Linked DNA regions of Homo sapiens: region 2 is linked to region 1. A link means that fine-mapping ties the variant in region 1 to the expression of a gene that starts in the linked region. Tissue or cell type: spinal cord. Region 1 holds a variant in brackets; the other region holds the start of a gene. All regions are shown on one strand. Distances are between the middles of the regions.

The links. PIP is the estimated chance that this variant, and not a neighbour inherited with it, causes the effect.
Region 2: GLIS1 starts here. The variant in region 1 is fine-mapped to the expression of GLIS1 in spinal cord (GTEx, PIP above 0.99).

The regions. Positions count from the first base shown.
Region 1 is chr1:53,115,091-53,123,090 of GRCh38, forward strand. The region is part of intron 2 of SLC1A7 (solute carrier family 1 member 7); the gene reads right to left. LOC105379783 (a long non-coding RNA gene) reads left to right here. Exons shown (of 4, transcript XR_007066089.1): 2 at 222-490; 3 at 1,021-1,142; 4 at 3,306-3,531. Among named protein-coding and RNA genes, the nearest start is that of SLC1A7, 24 kb to the right of the region's middle. RefSeq lists enhancers at 90-1,072, 5,516-8,000, 6,830-7,629. The variant G/T (reference allele first, on the strand shown) is at 4,961.
Region 2 is chr1:53,735,564-53,743,563 of GRCh38, forward strand. It overlaps GLIS1 (GLIS family zinc finger 1), which reads right to left and starts at 3,601. Exons shown (of 11, transcript NM_001367484.1): 1 at 3,542-3,601; 2 at 2,243-2,543. The coding sequence starts at 2,501. RefSeq lists an enhancer at 3,017-3,735 and silencers at 3,421-3,590, 3,601-3,950.

The DNA.
Region 1 (8,000 bases):
CATTCTTCCAACAATCCAGTCCTGTGCTCCTTCCAGCCTCTCTTTCTGCTCTGCCCTCTCCCCCACGCCCCGGGGCGCAGGCCACACACATCTGTGCCTTGAGACCTCTGCACTGCTAGGCAGAGAGCCCAGGCCAGGGTGGCTGTGGGATGGTGGGGACACTGTTGGGGGAGTGAGAGATTAATTAAGGAAATGCGTGTGCTTTACTTTGTTGCCTCAAGTTTCCCATGCTTGGTGTCCTCTCAGAAGCTTCCTTCACTCTCCTGACCCCTGCCCAGCCAGGCAGGACCAAGCTTGGTCTACCTCTGAGATCTACCTGCCTCTCCCCCAGAGTGAGGAGCCCATTCTAGGACCCCCACAGCCCCTGGCTGCTCCATCAGGACGCTGCCTGTCTGTTTGTGAGAGGAGGGATGAGTCTGACTTCCCTGTGGGTCCCGAGAGGACGGCACCGCAGGCGGTTCCTGCGGGCTCCTGGACGAGCTAATGAGGAGTGAGTGAGAGCGCTGGGCTGGGGGCTGGTGACCCAGGTCCTAGTCCCAGCTCTGCCAACTGGCTGTGTGGCCTCAGGCAAGCAAGTCACTTCCCCATCTTTGGGCCTCAGGATCTCCATCTGTAAAATGGGGACATCTTGGGTTTGTGCCTGGGCCCAGGCTCCTTGTCACAGGGGGCTGTGTTGAGAGGGCTGTGGGTCTCTCTCCTCTCGGCTCCTCCCCACCCCTAGCCACCCTGGCCTGGGCTTTCTGCCTACCAGTGCAGGTCAGCCCCAGAGTACTGGCGTCCTGGAGCCCTGGAGCCCTGGAGCCCTAGAGCAACGCTTCTTGCAGCCATTGTGGGGGGTGTGGGACGGTGGGGGGTGTGGGGTGAAGTGAGATTAATTAAGGAAATGCTTGTGCTTTGCTTTGTTGACAAAAGGATTTTTCCCCAAAGCCCTTTCATTCTTTCAGATAAAGAAGTATTTGTCTGGTTTTAATCATGTAAACAAGAGCAGATAATCCCCAGCCACGCTCCTCTTATCATTAGATTCCATGCAGCAGCATCCAGCCCCAGGCTGAGCGTGAACACCGGCCCCCTCCCCCAGCGGGAGCCACCGCCTGTGAGGGCCCTGCCCTGCCTGCTCGCTGGCGCAATGGCTTACTCTTCTGGTAAGACACACTTTGAGCATCCCCTCTTGCAGGAAGCCGTCTCTGACCACCAGGCTGAGTGAAGCCTCCTTCTCTGGCTCCACAGTCCCTGTGCCTCCCACTGTCCCTGCCCCCACCTCACTGGACTGCGGACTCTTTACTGGAAGCACCTCCAGGGTTGGGCCAGGTTCTGATTGAATGCTGGGTCCGCAGTTTGGTAGCAGACTGCTGAGTGAAGGAGTGAGTGAATGAATGAATGAGTGTTTACAATCTCTGCTCATCCTCATCTGCCAGGATGCCATATGTTAGTGATGGGCTTAGGGTGGGTCTTAGACATAAATCCTGAAGGGCTCATAATGGGATTGTGCAGCCAGAGGAAATGGGGGGCTGCCCTGCAATCATCATCAAAGAGAGATTATCCCACGCAGGGCCGGTGCGTCAACCCAGGGCCAAACAGTCCTCCCACCATGACAGAACCCCCCGCAGTGGGGTCCAGCCGCCTCAGGCCACAGGGAAGCCATGTACCCGAGAGCAGGCCCTGCCTGAGGTCACACAGGACAGCAGTGCCCGGCTGGGCCAGAACTCAGGGCCAGACCCAGGCCTGTCCTCCTTCATTCACGTGCATTCAAACCTTTCGCACATGCCCACTCCGTGCCATGCCCTGTGCCCACAGGAAGAAATCAGAACCTGTCCCTGACCTCAAGGAGTTCCTAATCTGCCAGGGAATGGGGAGGGAGAAGGAAAGGACACTGGGCCACAAGTGCACTCAAATGGCCCCTGGACTATGTGGGAGCATCAGAACCGCAAGGGAAGCGGGGACAAGGAAATGCTGTCTTTGTTCAGAGAAGGGGGAATCACTTCGAGCTAGGAAAGTCAGGAAGGGCTCCCTGGAGGAGGTGGCATTTGACCTGGCTCTTGGAAATGGGAGAGGATTTGGAGATGGGGCAGACATGCGCAGCAGTGAGACAGTGGAAGGCAGAAGGGAGGCTGGAAAGTGTGAGACACCGTGCTGTTCGATGTGGCCCGAGCTCAGGTAATATCTGAGGGTTAGTGACAGATTGGTGATAGAAGGGATAGAGAAGATAGGCTGAGCTCAGGAGTAGGGTGGCCTTGTGGCACTTCAGCACAACTCAGGCAGCAGAATTTGCTGGATGTCTAGAAGGGAGAACGAAAAATTCCTTCCATTTGAGAAGATCAAAGTACACATGGTGTACTGGGAGGGTCACTGAAGTAGTACTTGTAAGATCAAAAACCTGACCTAAGAACTCACCAATGCAGATTAGATAGGAAGGGACGGTATAGCAGCCATCCGGAGTGATCGTGTCCCTGGAAGGGTGTTCCTAAATCAATGCTAAGTGGAAAAGCAAGTTACCAGATTGTTTGCATCTCTGCAGTGAGCCCTGGAACCTCCTGGGATGGTGGACTCCCTCCAGATTTGCAGTCTAGGCACATAGATGTGTCTGAGGGATTGTGTGGAGTGGGGTGCAGGTGAGGACTGGATTTCAGGAAAGGATAAAGGCCCCTCAGAAGGCCCCCCACCGGGGACGAAGAGGCCTAACACGGGGGTGGCGCCAACTCAGGGACAGATTGAGATGTGGGAGGGAGTGTAGGTTTTAGACAGAGCAAGAGGGATCCCTGACCCCACCCTGGGGCCCCCATCAGCTCTGGACAGGAGAGCACCCATGGACGAAATGGAGAGAATCCTGGGACCCAAGTCGTTCTGTGCTGGAGCCTCCCTCCCTTCCCACAAATGGCGGAAGGGAGAGGTGAGCAGCCGCGGGAACTGCTGGTGACAGCTGGCAGCACAGGCCAGCCTCCCCCGGAGTGCCAGGGCCACCGCAGGTGAGGGCGGAGGCCAAGAAGAATGGGAGCTGGGCATGCAGAGGTCGTGGCTTCCACTCAGAGCTCACAGGCACAGAAAGGAGGTGTAAGGCCCTGCCCTTTGGCTTTTTGAGGGATTCCTCCCTGCTGAGGCTCCTCAAGGTCCCAGGCTTCAAGGTCAAGCTGTTAAAGGTGACTTTTCTGAGAACTTGCAGCTGGTGCCCAGTGGTGGTGGGAGACCAGGTCGCGTGGACGGGCACGGAAACAAGCAAACTCTATAGGAAATGTAATTATTATCTTTGGGTGTTATAAGTAATTTTTGTTTTGTTTCGAATAGTCCTTCACATTCTCTATTCTTTCTAGATTGAGCCCGTCTTCTTGTGTGATGGAGATGACACCTCCTGGAGGACCCAGCAGCCTCAGAAGCCATCATCTCTCTGGGACTTTACTGTTCCCCAGACACCTGAACACCCAGCCCAGTGGATCCTTAACCTTCTGAGTGAAGCACTGTGGAGTTCCACTGCGAGCCACATTTGTAATTTAGAATTTTCTAGTGGTCACATTAAAAAGTAAAAAGAAACAGGTGAAATTAGTTTTTTGGTGAAATTAAGTTTAATACTTTATTTAACCTAGTTTATCCCAAATATTATCATTTCAATATGTCATCAATATAAAAATTTTTAGGCCAGGCACGGTGGCTCATGCCTATAATCCCAGCACTTTGGGAGGCTGAGACAGGTGGATCACCTGAGGTCAGGAGTTCGAGACCAGCCTGACCAACACGGTGAAGCCCCATCTCTACTAAAAATACAAAATTAGCCAGGTGTGGTGGCGCATGCCTGTAATCCTAGCTTCTTGGGAGGCTGAGGCAGGAGAATCGCTTGAACCTGGGAGGCAGAGGTTGCAGTGAGCTGAGGCCACGCCATTGCACTCCATCCTGAGCAACAAGAGTGAAACTCCGTTTCAAAAAAAAATTTATATTGCTTCAGGTTTTAAATTTTAAATTAAATTAAATAAAAGTTCAGTTCCTCAGTTGCACTGCCTGCTTTTGGGTCTCAGAGGCCTCCTCTGACTCGTGGCTGTTGTATTGGACAGCCCAATACAATAGTTCTGAGTTACAGATGGGGAAAATGGAGCACAGGGAGATGGAGGCAACTGGCCAGGCCCTCCAGTTGGTGAACCATAATGTCAAGATTGGAACAGGGATTTCTGATTCAGAACCTTGTGGGGTTCCCACTCCCACAGTGCCTGTCTGTGGCACAAACCTGGTTTAACTCTGGTGGTGGGGGAAAAGATCTGGTTTGGGCTATGATTTTATTTTTTATTAATTCTTTGAAACAGGGTTTCACTCTGTTGCCCAGGCTGGGGCTCAGTGGCACGATCATGGCTCACTGCAGCCTTGACCTCCTAGGCTCAAATGATTCTCTCACATCAGCCTCCCAAGTAGCTGGGACTACAGGCACTCGACACCATGCCTGGCTAATTTTTAAAAATTTTTAGTAGAGATGGGGGTATCTTGATGATGCCCAATCTGGTCTGGAACTCCTGAGCCCAAATGATCCTCCTGTCTTCACCTCCCAAAGTGCTGGGATTACAGGTGTGAGCCACCCAGCCCAGCTGACTATGATTTTAATGTGATCCAGCCCATGTAAAGCCATTTTAGTTCAATCTCGGAGTTCACAGCCTGCCCTTGGTAATGAGCCTCAGATTTGTGGTGGTGAGCTTCCCATTGTTGGAGGCATCCAGGTGGATCCTGGATGGCCACCTGTTGAGATGCTAGATGGAGGCTTCCAGATAGAGTGGGAGGTTCCATGAGGATGACTTCAAACATTCCTTCTGGCTCTGTGATTTATGGTGAGGGGAGAATAGGCAACCACCTCTCTCCCACACCACGCTTGGCTGGGTGCTCCTGGGAGCACCTGCGGTGTTTGAGGGCCCCAGGGAAGAGCCTCTGGGAGTCTGGAGGCTGGAACTCCCTCCTAAGCCATCTGGCCACCACTCAGAGCCCAGGGATTGTG[G/T]ATCAAGAGATTGCAGTGATTAGAGACATTAACCCGCAGAGGCAGTGGGAAGGCCCAGCCTGTCTCAATCTGGTAATTGCTCCACTTGCAGGGGTGGGGGAAGGGAGGCAAAGACTGCCAGGCTCCCGGTGGAAGGAGAAAAAGGCTGCTGACTGACCCTCCCCTGGTTCTCGCACCAACCCCTGAGGTGGGACTCCTGACCCCATCTCACACTGGGAGGTGCAGGGCAGCTCTGCCATTTGCCAAGCGCTGGTTACAAAGGTGAGGGATTAGAAACCACGCCCCCACGAAGTCGAAGTTGTAGTCGCACCTCCCTACAGAGAGAGCCAAGAGAGCCTGCAGGCTGCCCAGCTGCCGGATGCCCCTCCCCCAGTTTGGGGTGACTCCCCATTGCCCTCCGCAACCATCCCAGCTCCTTCCCTGCCCTGCGTCCCCTGGGGCTGGGCCGCTCTCCTCCTCGTCCACTCTGCTCCTGGAAGTACCTTTGCACTGGATGTTCCTCCCGCCTGGAACTCTCCATCCACCATCCCTTCCCCAACCCTGGCCCAATGTCCCCAACCCTGGGTCAGCTTAGACATCACTGCCTCTGGGAAGCCTTCCCTGACTGCAGCCATCTCACCCACTTCCCCAGGGCACCCTGTGCTTCCCAGTTTGTTACGGAGCACCCTGCTAGTGGGCTCAACCCGAATCCCCAGGGCCTGACCCAGCACCTGGCACAGGACGGGCTGGCACGGAGTGCCGGGAGCCCAGTCCCCGCCTTCTTCTCCTTTCCTGTCCTGTGGATGCTGCTCAGCTCTGAAGTCTCCACTCAGGCACCACCGCCCTCTGAAGGCTGCCCTGGCCCTAGGCAAGGCGAGGAAGCTCCCGTAAGCATCCCTCACTCACTGCGAGCCCTTGGGCATGTGACTGGGCCTGGGTGTGCCTCAGTTTCCACTGAGGATGAGTGCGGATGATGCCGGTTTGCTGTGAGGCCAAATCTTGGGTTGGAGTGGTACATGGCATGTGATAAGTACGCACTGCATTTCAATTGTTATAATTTCCTCTGTCTTCACTGTCTGTCTGTGACCACCTGTCCCAGCAGACTGGAACTCCTCCAAGGCAAGGCTAAGTCTAGTTTGGCTCTAGGTCCTTAAAACCCAAGGTCTGGCACAGGCCTGGGTGCAGGGTTGCTGATGTGTGTGATGCTGAACCAGGGTGACATTCTAGATCAGACGTGAAAAGGACGACTTGTGTGCCCAGGTGACTGAGCAGCCATTGAAGGTTTCCTGAGAACAGATCACCAGTACCAGCCTTGGTCCCCGGATGGGCTTAGGGGAATGCCCACGGTGTTGTGTGTCTGTGTGACATCGAGACAGTTGGCACCAGAAATCTGGGAAGAGATGGGGGCTTGGTGAAGGGACAAGGAGCTGAATGTCCTGGGCAGTAGAGAGGGTGTCTAGAGATCAGCTTCAGGACTCTGCTTTCGGCCCTCTCCTTTCTGGTCATTTTAATCAATGGCTTGGCCAAGGCCCCCGACAGCATGTGGAGCAGATTTGTAGAGGACAGGAAGCTGGGAGGAATAGCTAATGTGCTGGATGAGGGAGTTGGGAATCCAAGCAGACCCCAGCAGTCAATTCTGACACAATGAGCCTGAACACAGACATGTGTTGGGCCGCACTTGGCTTCCACAGCTTGGAGTGCACAAACACCGGGGTGGGAGGGGGAGGCTGAGCCGTGGCTGCACACGTGGGGAGGGGACTTTGGGCTTTGTTTGCTGCCAGCTGGTGAGTCACCTGGGACGCGGGGCTGCCAAAGGGCTGGTGGGCCCCCTGCCTGTGGCTTCAGAAGCCCGGGGGCTGGTGGAGGCTGCTGCAGACCTGCTTTGACTCATTGAGAAAGGGACGGGGCGGGGTGTGTGTGTCCTGTAGAGGGCAGCTGGGTAGGCAGCAGGTGATAGAGGCACGTGCCTGGTTGCGGGGAGCAGCTGGGGGGCTGGGGGGCAGGTGCTGTGTGGTCCGGAGCGGAGCAGACCTGGGAATGCTGGGGATGATGGGAAAAGCCCTAGGGCTCTCAGCTCAGCACCAGGAATAACTTTCTGGCAGAGCTGTCCTGCTCTGGCAGGAACTACCTTGAGAAGTGGTGACCTCCCAGTCACTGGAGGTGTGCAAGCAACTTGCTAAAGTCACACAATAAGTGGGTTCAAGCCCTAGTCTGCTGGCATGACAGCATCCAGTCACAACCTCCTGGCAGTGGGAGGACCTGAGGGACAGTGAGGAGCCCCAAGCCCTGCAGCCAAGTCCTTGGGCTCTGGCCTTGGCTGACCTAGCCACAGAGGCTCTCCCCAGCTGGCCCTGGGATGCAGCTGCAGGAAGTCTACCAGACAGGCCGCAGGAAGGAGGCTTCGGGGGTCTGCGGGCAAGAGGGGTCCCTTCAGTCCATCTGAGCATCATGGCTTACTCTTCTTTTCCCCTGAGCAGAAGGCAGGCCCAACAGCTGACAGCCAGTGCCATGCCCATTAGCGCCAGCTCCAAGTCATGCTTCCCAGACGGCTCTGCCAAAGCCCCACACTCAAGCCGACTCCTCCTGAGGCCTAAGGCAGCATGCCCAGACTCCCACTCAGCTAAAGTCTGGGCCATCTCGTCTCAGCACACCCTCCCAAGGGCAGAAATTCCTCCACCACCTCTGCTTGCATATCTCAGAGGACAGAGCACTCACTACCTTCTGAGTCAGCCCCTCCACTAAGAGCTCGTGATGCTTATTAGGAAGTCCTTCCTGGTGTCACAATGAAATCCGCCTCCGGGGAAGAGCATTGGGCCACACTGGGCCCAGCCAGCCCTCTGGAGCCACATGGACCAAACCTCTTGGCCTCCACCTTGATTTCCATGGAGGGAAGGTGGGAGAGAGTGTGGGGCTCAGAGTGTGGGCGGTGGGTGCTGCTACCCTGGCATGCCCTGCTGCCCTCTGAAGGTCCCTCCTTCCCAGGCCTGGGTGCCAAGAGGGCGCTCCACTGGGACCTGTGAGAATGATAAGCTTGAACTGGATCAAAAGCAGAAGCTGGAGG
Region 2 (8,000 bases), 620 kb after region 1:
ATTTACAAACGAAGGAACCAAAGGCTCAGAAGAGTAAAATCGATTCCCCCAAGTGCCACAGATCATAGATGGTGGGGTCTCACAATTCCCAGCACAGTCAATACATATTTTTCAATTGGTATTTCTGTCTGTTTCCAATAAGCCTGAGAACTTGGAGCTAGACACCAAATATTCAAAGGGTTACATGGTCTGGGACTATTTCGGTGGGAGTAGGGGCAGTAAGAAGGTGCCGTTTCCTCGCAGCATTTTTAAGGACGCTGAAGAACTGGGGGAAAGCTGGGTTTGTCTCGGGCCACTTGGTGACTGCACTGTGAGGAAAAGCTTGCCTATAGCAACACAGAGGCCAGCAGGGAAACCTCTCCAAGCCCAGGACCCTGAGCCTTCCCTTTCTCCCTAGGCCAGGTTAGGCCAGAGCTGTGGCTTCCCTAACCACTGCCCTACACATACCAAACACTTTCCCACCTTCAGGCCTCAGTTTCCTCACCCTTCAAATGAGTGGGATACATCCCACCACAACAGCCTCACTGGGAGGCTATGAAGAAAAGTTGTGAAACCTCTTGGAAAAAAGCTTCACCAGAGAGACCAGCTTAAGGTACAAAGAAAGAGGCTCTTCCTCCCATCCCTTTATTCTCCTCTGCCCTTTCCAAATGGAATCCTGACTTAAAGATCTTTTATTTTGGACATGTTTGGGGGCGTGCGTAAAAATAACTGGGGTTAGGGGGAATGGAAGTAGGAAGATCGTACACAAAGCCCCCAGGTGAAAGGTCTCACCATAGCGTGGAACAAAGATTATGTTCGGGAGAGCTGTTTGCTAGGTCTGCAGAGAACTCGATCTTCAGAGGACAGCCATGATTTTTTTAAACACAGAACGTTGCAGGAGGGTATCTATTTAAGGGAGGATTGTGTATGGAGCGGGGCAAGCCAGGGAGCTCCCGGCAGCAAACATTACTCATGTCTCGCTGCGCAGCGCTCCTCTCTGGTAAAAGAGACCTCATATGTGTGTATTCCAGCAATAACACTCAGCAGGCATTTCCCGCCCCTCCCCACTGTATCTGTCCTTCTAAAATATTATCTCTATCCCTTGAAAAAGAGGCTGGCATCTAAAACAAGGAGATGAGAAGTAGTTCTCTCTTACAAAGTCAAGTGTTTTCTTCAAAAAAGAAAAAAACTACTTATGTTTATTTCATTTTACTAATCCCTGAACCAGGGAGTTGGGTGTTTTTGATCCACAAGGAGCTCTCAACTCTAAAAGTAGGCTGCCTACCCCTTCCGAGTTGTGAGGCTGATGCTAGGAAGTGATGCCTATAACCGTAAAACCCAAACTGTTTTTGTCTTCCTTGAGAATCATCTGGAATGAGAACCAAGAGGTTCCAAATGCAGATATAGTCAAACCCCAAAGCCTTGGTTTCCCCTAAGGGAAAAAAAAAGGGGGGAGGACGAGGACACAGCATCTTAACAATTTCTCCAATTCCTGGTTAATTATCTGTCAGCACGAAACTCATAAATAATGACTCAATAATAATTAACTGTGATGAGAAGAGCATGTTCCTGAAAATCCCAGCACCATCTCCGACTTTGAGCCCATAAGCCATACTGGGACCCCCACCTTCCCGTGGCCAGCTTCACTGGGGGACGAAGGGACTTGCCAAGGAGCTTGTGACCCAAGACTAGGCTGCCGAAGCACCAAGTACAGAAAAGCCATGTTTAAGTTAGGACGTGACTAGGCTGGATTGCTGATGCAGAAAATTTTCCATCAGGAATCCAGAAATCATCTGGTTTAATTAATTCCTCACTTGACAGATGGGGAAACTGAGGTCCCAAAAGGAGAGGGGTCTTGCTAAAGGCCTCTGGGTTTTGTCAGCTGAGGAGATTGAAATACTTCAAACTATGCCTTGAGCTGCTCAGAAACAGATACCAATATATGCGTTGCTATTCGCCCTCATGTATAATAAAATTTTGACAAGTTTCTATGCAAGCTTTATCAGAAACACACAGAAGCAAAATTATGTAAGCTGAGAGCTTTCTATAAACACATTTCCCCAAACGGGGCTAATTGAATTTAAATTAGATGCTTCGCAAAGCAGGCATACTTTCACACTGACAAGCTAGTCCCAAACAATAAGAGAGAAACTGAGGAACTCCGAAGAAAGTTCCACCAAGCTCTCCCGAGCACGCGGTGGCGACGCCGGGCAGCCCGAATCTCCACAGGAGCCGCCAGGCACGTTGGCAGGGCCGAACTCACCCTTCCCGGCGGCGGCGGCCTTGGATGGACCGTAGTCTCGGGGACTGCGGGGCCGGAGGAGGTCGTGGGCGCGCGGTGGCGGCGCAGGCGGCCGGGCTAGCAGGTCCCGCGGGCCCCTGTCCCCGCAGCCGCCGCCACTCACGGTGACCCTGAAGGCCATGTGCGCGCCGAGGCTGGCGGGGCCGCGGTCGGGGCCGGGCGCACCAGGGGCCTCCTTAGGCCTCTTGTCCGAGTGTGCCTCAGCCACCTCGCAATGCATGGCGCCGGGGCGGGGCGCACGGCTGGGGGTCGCGCCGGGCTCCTGGGGAGGGGAGACAGCACAGCCAGTTAGAATGCGGAAAGCGGCCCCCGTATTGTCCCGGGGCCGAGTTTGAGCAGGTCACTGCCCCTTCGGTGGATTGCGCGTCTTTAACATAGGTTAGCACCACGACACCTAGCCCAATCAGAGGTCAAACCCACCTGATTCCACGCAAAAGCCCCCTCGCTCAGGAGCGGTTCGCCCTTCCCTGGTGTGGGGAGGACCCCAGGCCCCCGCGCCGCGGCGCATTACCGCGAAGTCCCACCCAAATCCTCCTCCACCGAAACCAGCCTCCTTTGCACGAATGGTGAAACTGAGGCCTGGAGCGGGTAAGGCGCCTGTTCCGCGTCCCCCAGTGGAACACGGAGCCGGCGGCAACGAGGATTCCCAGAGCAGGGCTCGGGCGAAGCCCCGGAGACGGCTCCGGGTAGGTCACGGGCTGCGCGCTTCGTCGACTCTCCGGGGCCGAGCTGCGCGCAGAAGCTGGGGACCCGAACCCAAAGGCCCGAGGGAAACCCCCAGAGACTCACCCGCGACCACCCGAACCTGGAAAACAGGAGTCCCAAGCTGGGCGCTGAATCCTGCGACGCGAACCCATCACGCGCAGCCGGGACACCCACATTCCTATGCGCAGCGGAGGAATCGAGCCCGTCGCGCGCGCAAACCGGCACAGTGGGCAATGCCCACGCGGCCGCCGCCACACACCCGCACACCCGCCGAGGCACGCCCGGGGACGGACACGCCACCCACACTGCCGCTGGTCAGACGCTCAGCAGCGCACAACCACACAGTCCCACGCTCTCGCCACACGCGCGTGCGATGGGGGCCGCGACAGAGCCTCCCTCAGCCCTTCCATCAGGGGCCCCCAAACTCTCCGTTCCCCTCCGCGCTCCCTGCGCCATCCCCAAGCTGCCGGGGTTCGAGCGTCGCCGGGACGCCAGCCTCGGATCTCGGGCCCCGCACACGCCCCTCCCTCGGCCGCGGGCCGCGCCCCCTCTCACCTCGCAGCGGCAGCTGCAGATCGCTGGGCGCCCGGCTCGGCGCGCCTCCACTGGCGCAGCAGCCCCCGCAGCCGCCGCAGCCGCCGCCGCCGCCGCCGCGTCCTGCGGGGCGGTTCCCCGGGGGACGGGGGCGGGCCCGCGTCTGCCCAACAGCCGCTCCAGCCACTGGCTGGCCGCGGCCGCCCGGCTCAGGCCAATCGCGGCGCGAGGGCGGGGCATCCCCCCCTGGGGGTCTGGGCGGGGCCCGACGCGGGGCTGAGCAGAGGGTTTGACAGGCGGCGGCCGGCTGGATCCCCGCGCTGCCCGCTGTTCTCAGACGGCCGAGCCGGGCAGGACGGCGGGGCGGCGCCGCGGCGAGAGAGGCTGGGCTCGGGGGTCGGCGGAGTGCGCTGGGCGTGAGGAGTGCCGGGCTGAACCCGGCTCCCTGCCCGCCTCTCCACTAGCCCCGGGCAGGATCCTCCCTTCTCCCGGTCGGTTTTCCCCTCCGTCAGATGGGAACGACGCTGTCTGCTAACGCGAAGCGGACAGATGCGAAAGTGCTTGAAAAGTTTTCTTGCAGAATCCAACCCTCTCACTGGAGAATTTGCAGAGATTTCACAGCTAGTGGGCAGCAAATTTGGGACCCAAACCCAGGCCTCTCAGCCCACTTTCTTACGTTTGTTTTTGTGTTTTCCGCCGGAAAGAGTCCAGGGTAAAAGGTCTCAAACTCTGAAGTTAAAGATAAAAAAATGGTGCCTGATCCCAACTAGGAAATATTCCAATTGAGTCTTGGGGAATAGGCCCCCAGCACTTAGGCTTTTAGCGAGCTCCCAGGAGATCCTTACAGATCTGGGGATTGAGACCCACTCTAGGGGTCTACTCTGTTGTCCTGCCTTCTGGGATTCCCCCACAGACAGCACGCAGTGTCTCAGGGGGCCCTGCCCAACGTGTAGGAAGAGCACGGGACAAAGAACAGTAAGGCTTCACAGAGCCTGCAGGCAATGGCTCAGTTCCCCGCTCTGAGCCTGAGTCCTCCCGTGTAAAATGGCAGTGTTTGCCTAGGCCTGGTCTACCTGCCATGCCTACCGAAGGATCCAGCCAAGCCCTGAAATGGTTTCTGCATTTCACCTAGGCGCCTCCTGTGCACTGTTTGATGGTGGTCTGGGCTGGCTCCAAGGGGCCTGACTGGTTTCGAACTCCTTTGAAGTCTGGTCTCTTTGACCTTGGTCTCAAACTGGAAAATGTATATGGAGCCCTTCTGGACTACACAACATGTCAAGTTCATAGCACAGGACTCTGCACAGAACAACCGACCCCAAGCAGCATCCTCAGAATCCTGGAAAACCAGGATTTTAGAATTTCAAAATCATAAAATTGGATTTCCTATAATTTGTTTAAAATAGTATCTAACAATTAGAGTAATAATAGTAAGAAAGACTTTGAGGTTTTAGTTAGACCCACCCTCCATTCAGAGGAGAAAGGACGTGACTGGCCTGTGTCAATGTGGTGGAGGGTGGCAGAGCCCCGGGATCCAGGCTTCCTGACTCCTGGCAATGCTGTTCCTTCAGTACCAACCACTCTGCTGCTCACAGGGAGAGGGTGTAAATCAACCATGCCCATAACACACAGGCCAAGGGTTGCGCCTCACTCAGTGCCTGCACCCCCCACCACCACATACTCTTGTGGAGTCACAGCTGGTTCTGCTGCCAACAAGCCATGTGGCTCTAGACGAATGGTAACCTCACTCTGGACCTCAGCTTCCCCCCTCCAAAGGCATGAAGTTGGAAGATCTCTGGCCTTTCTAGTTCTGCTCTTCTCTTCAGTAAGGCCAGGATCCAAGTCCTCTGCCCTCCCTCCACCCCCCACAATGCCCCCCCCCGCCGCCCCGCTGCAAAACACACACACACACAACAAGCACTGCGCTGCACATTTAGTCGGGACTCTGAAAACGTTTGCTGAATGAGTCATTTAACCAACTGGACCTGAAAGCAAAGGCCCTCCAAATTTCCAGATGAAGAAACAGCTCTTTCCATTATTCTTTTGAGCACTTACCCTGGGCCAGCCCCTATACCTGAGCTAGGGACACAGAAACACAGAACCCGCCCCCTCCCCTTCCCCTCAGTGAGCTCACAGGTCCACCTGACCAAAATAGGTGGGTTTGTGAAGGCTGGCAAAGTGATGAGAAGTTTAATCTGCTCAATAAAACAGACCTCTTAAACACTGTAAATGGCAGAACCCCTTTGGAGATACTCAGAATCTAGTAGGTATATGCTTTTTTTTTTTTCCACAAAGGAAACACAAGAAACTGTTAACAGTGGTTAAGGGAATGGAGGACTGAGGGAAGGCCTGCACTTTTCATTTTTATACTTGTCTGAACTGATTTGTGTTTTCTAAGTATATATTATCCTCCCTCTCTCTCTCTTTTTTTTTTTTTTTTGTTTTCTTTTTCTTTTTTGAGACAGAGTCTCACTCCTCTGTCTGCCCAGGCTGGAGTCCAGTGGCACAATCCCAGCTCACGGCAACCTCTGCCTCCCAGACTCAAGTGATTCTTCTGCCTTAGCCTCCAGAGCAGCTGGGACTACAGGCGCGCACCACCATGCCTGACTAATTTTCGTATTTTTAGTAGACAAGGTTTCACCATATTGGCCAGGCTGGTCTCGAACTCCTGACCTTGTGATCCGCCCACCTTGGCCTCCCAAAGTGCTGGGATTACAGGCATGAACCACTGTGCCCGGCCCCTCCCTGTCTTTCAATAGGGGTTATTTGAGCAGTGGGATTATGTGCTGCATTTTTTTCCTTTATATTTTTGGTATTAAAATAAAACTCCTTAATATTTTAATTGTCAAAAACAAAATAAAGTGAAACACAGTAACCTGCTTCTCACTTTAGCAGGCTAGACAGTAATGTCTGCTTTTTACACTAACCCGTGTTACAACTCACACTCTCTTCTGCCCTCCCACAGTCTGTCTACTGGATATCTCTATCAGGATCCATCTGCAAAATCGAACATCATTTTTTCATCTCTGACGTTGCTCCTCACTCCTATGTCCCTAACTGGGTGAATGGCCCTATGGCCAACTCCCCCAGTTCAGAAATCTGAGTCATCCTCAGCCCCTCCTCTCCCATACTCCTATATCTGACTTGTCATAAATTTAACTAACAATCCTCCTCCTCTCCATCCTCACTACTACATTTCTTCCAAGTTCTTTTTGCCTCCATCCTCATCCTTCTCCTAATTAGTGATTTTCCACACTGGTCTCCTTATCAGTCTCTAAAGTATAGATCTGGCCGGGCACAGTGGCTCCCACTTGTAATCACAGTACTTTGGGAGGCCAAGACAGGAGGATCACTTGAGGCCAGGAATTGGAGACCAGACTGGGCAGCATAGCAAGACCTTGTCTCTACAAAAAATAAAATAAAAAATAGTCAGGCATGGTGGCCTGCACCTATACTATCAGCTAATCAAGAAGCTGAGGTGGAGGATCCCTTGAGTCTAGGAGTTTGAGACTGCAGTGAGCTATGATCATACCACCATACTCCAGGCTAAGTGACAGAGAGAGACCCTGTCTCTAAATAAATAAGTAAATAAATAAATAAATAAAAATATAGATCTGACCATGGCACTTCCCTGTTTAAATCTCATAGCTCCCAATGGCCATCTAAATAAAATCAAACCATTTTCTTACCCTGCTCCCACCCCTACCCTATGTTCCAAGCACCTTGGAATAGTTTTCATCTCCTAGAATCCGGAACATATATTCATGCCTTCATAGCTCTGTATATGATTTCTCCTATGCTAATATTTTCTCCCCTTATTCACCTTGCCTACTTCTTCCTATGAATCATTTCATACCCAGCCCAAGTGTCACCTTCCCACAAGCCTTCCCTGAATCCTCGAGGGGGCTATAGCTATTTTCTCCCTGCACACTTTCACAATCCTCTGCTTTATTCTATCTGAGAACTTATTACAGTTTTGTAACTGCCTGTGTAACAGCCTGTCTCCCCCCTCTAGAATGAGACCTCTGTGAGGTCAGGGGCAGCTTTTTGCCTTTCTATCTTCAGAACCTAGAAGAGATTCCTGCACAAAGTAGGTAAATATTTACTGAATGCTGATTGAATTATTAAAGACTCACCACTAATTCATTTGCTTGCCTACATTTCTAGCTAAGAGCTTCCCCACCCTATCAAGACGTCTCTCCTCACTGTCTTTGTTCAGGGGTGTAAGCATTCACTCAGCAAATGGTTGAGGTAAAAGTAGACATTTCTGTGTCTAAGGTGTCCTGTGTCCAGGAGATAGGAGGAAGGAGAAGGAAGAGAGGTGATCGATGTTACACTGCTTACCCTGCCTCTGTGTCTTGCAGCAAGGGAAGAATTAACATGGGGAACCTACCATGTACCATGGCTGACACTCTCCATATGTGACCTCACTTAATCCTGACAACTCTGGATAAAGAGGTTATCATCCCTATTTTACAGGTGA